2 separate regions of the Homo sapiens genome follow, and region 2 is linked to region 1. A link means that fine-mapping ties the variant in region 1 to the expression of a gene that starts in the linked region. Tissue or cell type: cerebral cortex. Region 1 holds a variant in brackets; the other region holds the start of a gene. All regions are shown on one strand. Distances are between the middles of the regions.

Evidence for each region. PIP is the estimated chance that this variant, and not a neighbour inherited with it, causes the effect.
Region 2: it holds the start of PDLIM2, and the variant in region 1 is fine-mapped to the expression of PDLIM2 in cerebral cortex (GTEx, PIP 0.96).

Annotation. Positions count from the first base shown.
Region 1 is chr8:22,648,526-22,651,278 of GRCh38, forward strand. The region is part of intron 1 of BIN3 (bridging integrator 3); the gene reads right to left. Among named protein-coding and RNA genes, the nearest start is that of BIN3-IT1, 7.7 kb to the left of the region's middle. The variant CAT/C (reference allele first, on the strand shown) is at 1,380.
Region 2 is chr8:22,579,067-22,581,693 of GRCh38, forward strand. PDLIM2 (PDZ and LIM domain 2) reads left to right here and starts at 1,409. Exons shown (of 9, transcript NM_001368120.1): 1 at 1,409-1,631; 2 at 2,313-2,464. The coding sequence starts at 1,539. RefSeq lists silencers at 1-125, 196-265, 366-455, 466-625, 1,356-1,445.

The DNA of each region.
Region 1 (2,753 bases):
TTGGGGTAGAAGATCACAGAGCAGAAGAGCCATCCTCACCACATCATACCCAGGGTCCACGATGTCAACATGCCTTACCCTGCTGATGTGAACCTTGATCACCAGGCTGAGGTCATCTTTCTCAGCTTCCTACTGTGAAGTTACTCTCCCTTCTCCCTTTCCCTACTGCACTCCTTGGGAGGAAGCCATCATGCAGAATCCTATTTCTTATTTATTCAACCATTCAATATCAGTATGGACTCACAGATATTTATCTTATATTTTGGGTTATAATCTAATACATTATTTTGATGCTCAAACTGTTCCAGCTTTCACCACTGGCAGCTCTTTCAGTTGGCTTCTGTGTCCCTTTGACATATCCACATCAACGTATGTATGTATGTATGTATGTATGTATGTATGTATGTATGTATGTAAGTGTGTGTGTGTATTTCCTTACTTTCCAGCTCTACGACATGTACCAAGTGCATCTTGTACATTTCCTGCCTCAGCCCTAGAATCAGTGGAGGAACTTACATTAGTATTCAATGTGCTTCTGTAATATGTTCTCAACCTTACTTTTCCTATTCACTCAGTACAACTGCCATGATTCAGCCAAGTGGCTGTTCATTAATCCCCCAAATCTAGACTCCTTATAATTTCCTGTCCCAAACTGGGACATTTTGGAGTACACGTCATCAGGACAACTTGGACTGCCCAGGGCAACCAGGACAAATGGCTACCCCACCTATATGGAATGCTTTCTCTGCTCCCAGGAAAACTTCTCACCTTCTTCTAAACGTCAAAGACTTATTTGGCATTTAAAAAATTCTACCCTTTACAGTTAATTACAGTTTATCTCCTTAAAAAGTAAAGTATTCACACGAGAAACAGTAACTTTAAAACAACTATTACAGAAAAACGTGCTCATTGCAGAACACTTGAGAAATAAAAGGGGATGGGGTGGGTGGGGGTATAAGGGAGGAAAAGGAGAGGGAAAAACCCAGCCACGATTCCGCATCTAAAAGATGGCCAAGGTTAATGTTTCAGTGTTGCTATTTATATTTTTTAAATTTACAGTAAGAAAAACTGAAGCAAATATGCCAAATGTTGGTAGTGGCTAATTCTGGGTGGTGAGAATATGATTACTGTTTTCTTCTTTGCACTTTCCACATTTTTCTTTCAAATAAACCAAAAACAAAAACAAAAACAAACAAACAAAAAAACACCCTTGTTTTTTTCTTGACTACAAAAATAGCACCTGATCAGTGTTAAAAACCTGGAAGAGATAGAAAAACGCAAAGGACAACACACACACACACACACACACACACACACACACACACACACACACCCCCAAAGGAAAAAATTAACAGTAATATCCTGAATCACAGTGTGTA[CAT/C]GTGTGTGTGCATGTGCATATGTAAATTTTATATAATTTTTAAATTAATAAGTAAAAGAAATATCATGAATGGTTTTATATGAGAATATATCATTTTCACTCTCCTGATTTTTAAGAGCTACGGAAGTAAAATGAGTGGTTCAGGTATATAATGGAAATGTACCACTCGTTTTATTTCTGTAACCTCATCACTTACTGCTGGTCATTGCAACCGTTTCAAATTTTTCTTCTATTATGAACAAAAACTCCAATAGGTAAATCTTGGTGTGCACTAAGAGTCATACAGGATCAATTCTGTATACTGTGTTCAAGGCTTTGACACATTTTGACAAACTGCCCTAGAGACAGATTGAAACATTTAACATTTTTGAAAAGATTGAAACAGTTTACATTTTACTAACCACACTTTGGTTTGTATATCAGGATTTTTTTCTTGGATTAGTGTTTGCCTTTCACTTTTGTACATGCTTGTGTTTAATGTACAGAAGCTTTTGATTAGTGTGAAATCAAATCTACTAAATCCGCCTTTTGTGAGTTCTTCTTTTGGTATCAAACTGAGGATGACCTGCTTCCTCCACTCCATCAACTTGCAACTATTTACCTATATTTACTTTATTACTTTTATGGCTTCCTTTTGTTAATCTAAATTCTATCATTAGTATCAAAGTTATAGTGTGCACAGTCTAATAAGGCAACAAGATTTCTTAAGTAAAACGTTAGTTCCCAGGACTCCCTAATCTCATTTGCCAGAAACAACCACTTTCAACTCAACTGAGTTTCTAGTATTTACCTTTGCACATCTAAAGATAAATGCTTATACTGCTACCTCTAGATCGTTAGGTTTTTAGGCACTAAAAATCTACTTTAGCTATTGACTTTTTACTTCGGAAGATGAAGATTTAAAATTAAACAAACAAAATATTTTTGGGTACCCATCGCTATTTCATGAAGCCACACTTGCAGCTCTTCTTCTCAATATAGTTACAGTATAATAACTTGGTTAGCTCAATATTAAGTAAACTATTAGGAGGATATTGTGAGTTTTCTTCCATCCTGCCCTTGGGAGCCAGCAGATTGTTCAGCCTCAGTCAAAGCTTTAGGGCATAGCAGTTGTAGCCGATGTACTGAGTCACAAACTCGTAAGAGTTTCCAAGTCAAAGCTCCAGCTATGCCACTCCCAAATTCCTGACCAACAGAAACTATTTGTTTCCAGCCACTAAGTTGTGGGATAATGTGTCACGCAGCAGTAATACATAAATAACATGCATACTTTTTTTTTAACTTTCCCTAAAATTGGTAATTGTCACTTTTCTTTCATTTGCTTGTCTACGTACTTATCCCCAATTCAATCTGTGGTCTAACTCTGGTTTCA
Region 2 (2,627 bases), 70 kb before region 1:
CAGGGGCGGCCCCGGGATCACATGGGCGGAGGCAGGTCCGGGAGCCCCGGGCGGGCTCTCCCCAGAGTCGGGTAGACGGCAGCGGGAGCGGTGGCGTCTCCCCGCCTTCCCTCCCTCCCGGGCCTGGGCGCCCAGCCGGACAGGTGAGCGGCAGCCAGGTGAGCGCGCCCACCTGCGCCTCTCCGCGCGGCCCGCCCTCCCCGGCGCCGGGCTCCTCTCCGCGCCCCTGTCGGCGCGGAACCCTGGCCTCGTCCGCGGCCCAGCTCCCTGGAGCCTCGCATCAGCGGGGGCGCCCCCGCGAGCTGCGCTCTCCCCGGCCGGAGCGCTCCTCCTCCAGCCCCCAGCCCGCAGGGTACTTTGCCCTCGGAGCGAAGGAGGCTCCAGAACTGGTAGAGCCGGGCCATCGGGCTGGGCACCTCCCCGCGGCGCCCGCAGCGCGGAGTCCACTGACCGGCTCAAAGGTCTGGGAATCTCGGGGCGGCCGCGAGCCGGCCTCGGGGACTGGGGTGGGGGCGGTGCTGGGAACAGAGGCTAGGCCTGGGCCCAAGGGGAAGGCAGCCGGGGATGGAGCGGACAGACCGCTGGTGCTCTTGATAGATTCTCGCAGCACTTGCGTCCCCAGGGCAGCCCCAGGATGGGTGCTGGGCAGGGTGGTGCCCAGCCTGGCACCGCGGCTTCCTGCCTGGATTGGCTCCTGGCTCCAGAGCTAGAGGCTCAGGAAATCCCACAGGGGTCTGTCTGCAAGGGCACTTCCTTGCCCAGCGGAGGGGCTGTGGATGGGAGGCCTGTCACCCCGGCTGTCTGTCGGGCAGCATCAGGAATCTGGGGGTGGGTGTGTCCAGCTTGACAGATGAACCCTGGCCTCCTTGCCCTGGCAGCCGGCCCCTGGGGGAGGTGGGGAGCCCGGTCTTGCCCGTGTGATCCACTTTGCCAAGAACGAGGTGGGCAGCTAGGAGGCCCATGTGAAGACTCGGCCTCACCCCACCAGTCCTTCACCTGGCCAGTGACTTACACAGTCTGTACTGGTGCCAGCCTGTTCCTTGACCCGTCACTCCTGCTTCCTGAGCCCTGCTCTCCCTAGGCCACTCACCAGCCCTCCCCCAGAGTGGAGAGGAAGTACCGTGTGCTGTGGGTTTTGGGGACAGGAAGCAAGCGCTAGTGGGACTGAGCCCTGATGGTGGAGGAGGGGAGACTGAGGGGGTGCTGGCATCCCCTCCACTTGCCAGCCCCTGCCCCCCATGCTCCAGCAAGCCCCCTGCCTGGCAGCCTGGGCAGCCCCCTCCTGGGAGTCGCTCCCTGGGCTGAAGACTAAGGAAGGGAGAACCCAGAAGCATGGCTTCCCAGGGTGGGGGGAAGTGAAACCGGGCTGAGGGAGGGAGTTAGCCACTTCCTCTACCCACCCCAAAGCCCCTGAGTAGCTGCTCCGGGAGCTGTGGTGCCCTCTCCTTCTCCCTTTGGCTCCTCTCCTGCTGCCTTACAGTGCCCCCAGAGCCGGCTAGGGGCATGGACTTCACCTCCTGGTCCTCTCTTCCTCAGGTATGGCGTTGACGGTGGATGTGGCCGGGCCAGCGCCCTGGGGCTTCCGTATCACAGGGGGCAGGGATTTCCACACGCCCATCATGGTGACTAAGGTAAGGATGGTGGCTCAAAGAGATGAGAAGGTCCTGCCAGAAGCGAGGTCGGCCCTGTTCACCCCACTCTGCACAGATGGCTTGCTTTTTCTGTTCTGGAGCTAGGGATCTGCTGCTGCCTGGCGTGCTGGCTGTAAGGGAGCCGTGGCCCTTTGCCACGGGGATGTGGTGGCCACTTCAGGAACAGACCTTGGGAGTGAAAGGGAGCTGGGACCAGGACAGGGCCGGCTCTTGCCTCCCCAGTTGCTATCCCCACACTTGCAGGCAGCCATTTGGGGTGATTACTAGAACAAGAGCCCCGGAGTTCTTGGCAGTCTCCTCTTGACCTGGGCCCAGGCTGGGAACATTCACAGGAGGGCTGTGCAGGCAGCCACCTGCAAGGTGCGATTTGCACGGGCAAGGCTCTCTATCCAAAAGTATTTCCAAGCACAGTTCCTGAAATTCTGCCACTGCACATTCTTTGGGAGGCCCATTAGAATGCCAGTGTGGGGTGGGGGCTGCCACCTGCGCTCCTGGAGGGGATGGCTGATCAGCTGGGTGTCATGAGCAGGCAGAGGGACATGCAGGAGGGTGCAGGCCGGCCTGGGTCAAGCCAGCCTCTGTGTTTCTTGGGTAGCAGAGTGGGAAGTCCCTTCTCCAGCTGGGCCACGGTCTGAGCATGCCAGCTCCTCATCCCTACAGGTGGCCGAGCGGGGCAAAGCCAAGGACGCTGACCTCCGGCCTGGAGACATAATCGTGGCCATCAACGGGGAAAGCGCGGAGGGCATGCTGCATGCCGAGGCCCAGAGCAAGATCCGCCAGAGCCCCTCGCCCCTGCGGCTGCAGCTGGACCGGTAGGGCCTCCCGCTCTGCAGAGCCTGTGGCATTCCCCCTCCTCCACCACCCCACGTATTGAGCAGCCCTTGCTCCTGCCCATGGGCTAGAGCTCAGCCCTAAAGCGGCCTTCTTGGGCCCTCTCCACACCTTGGTGAGAAGGTCCTGGGCTCTGCTTCCTGC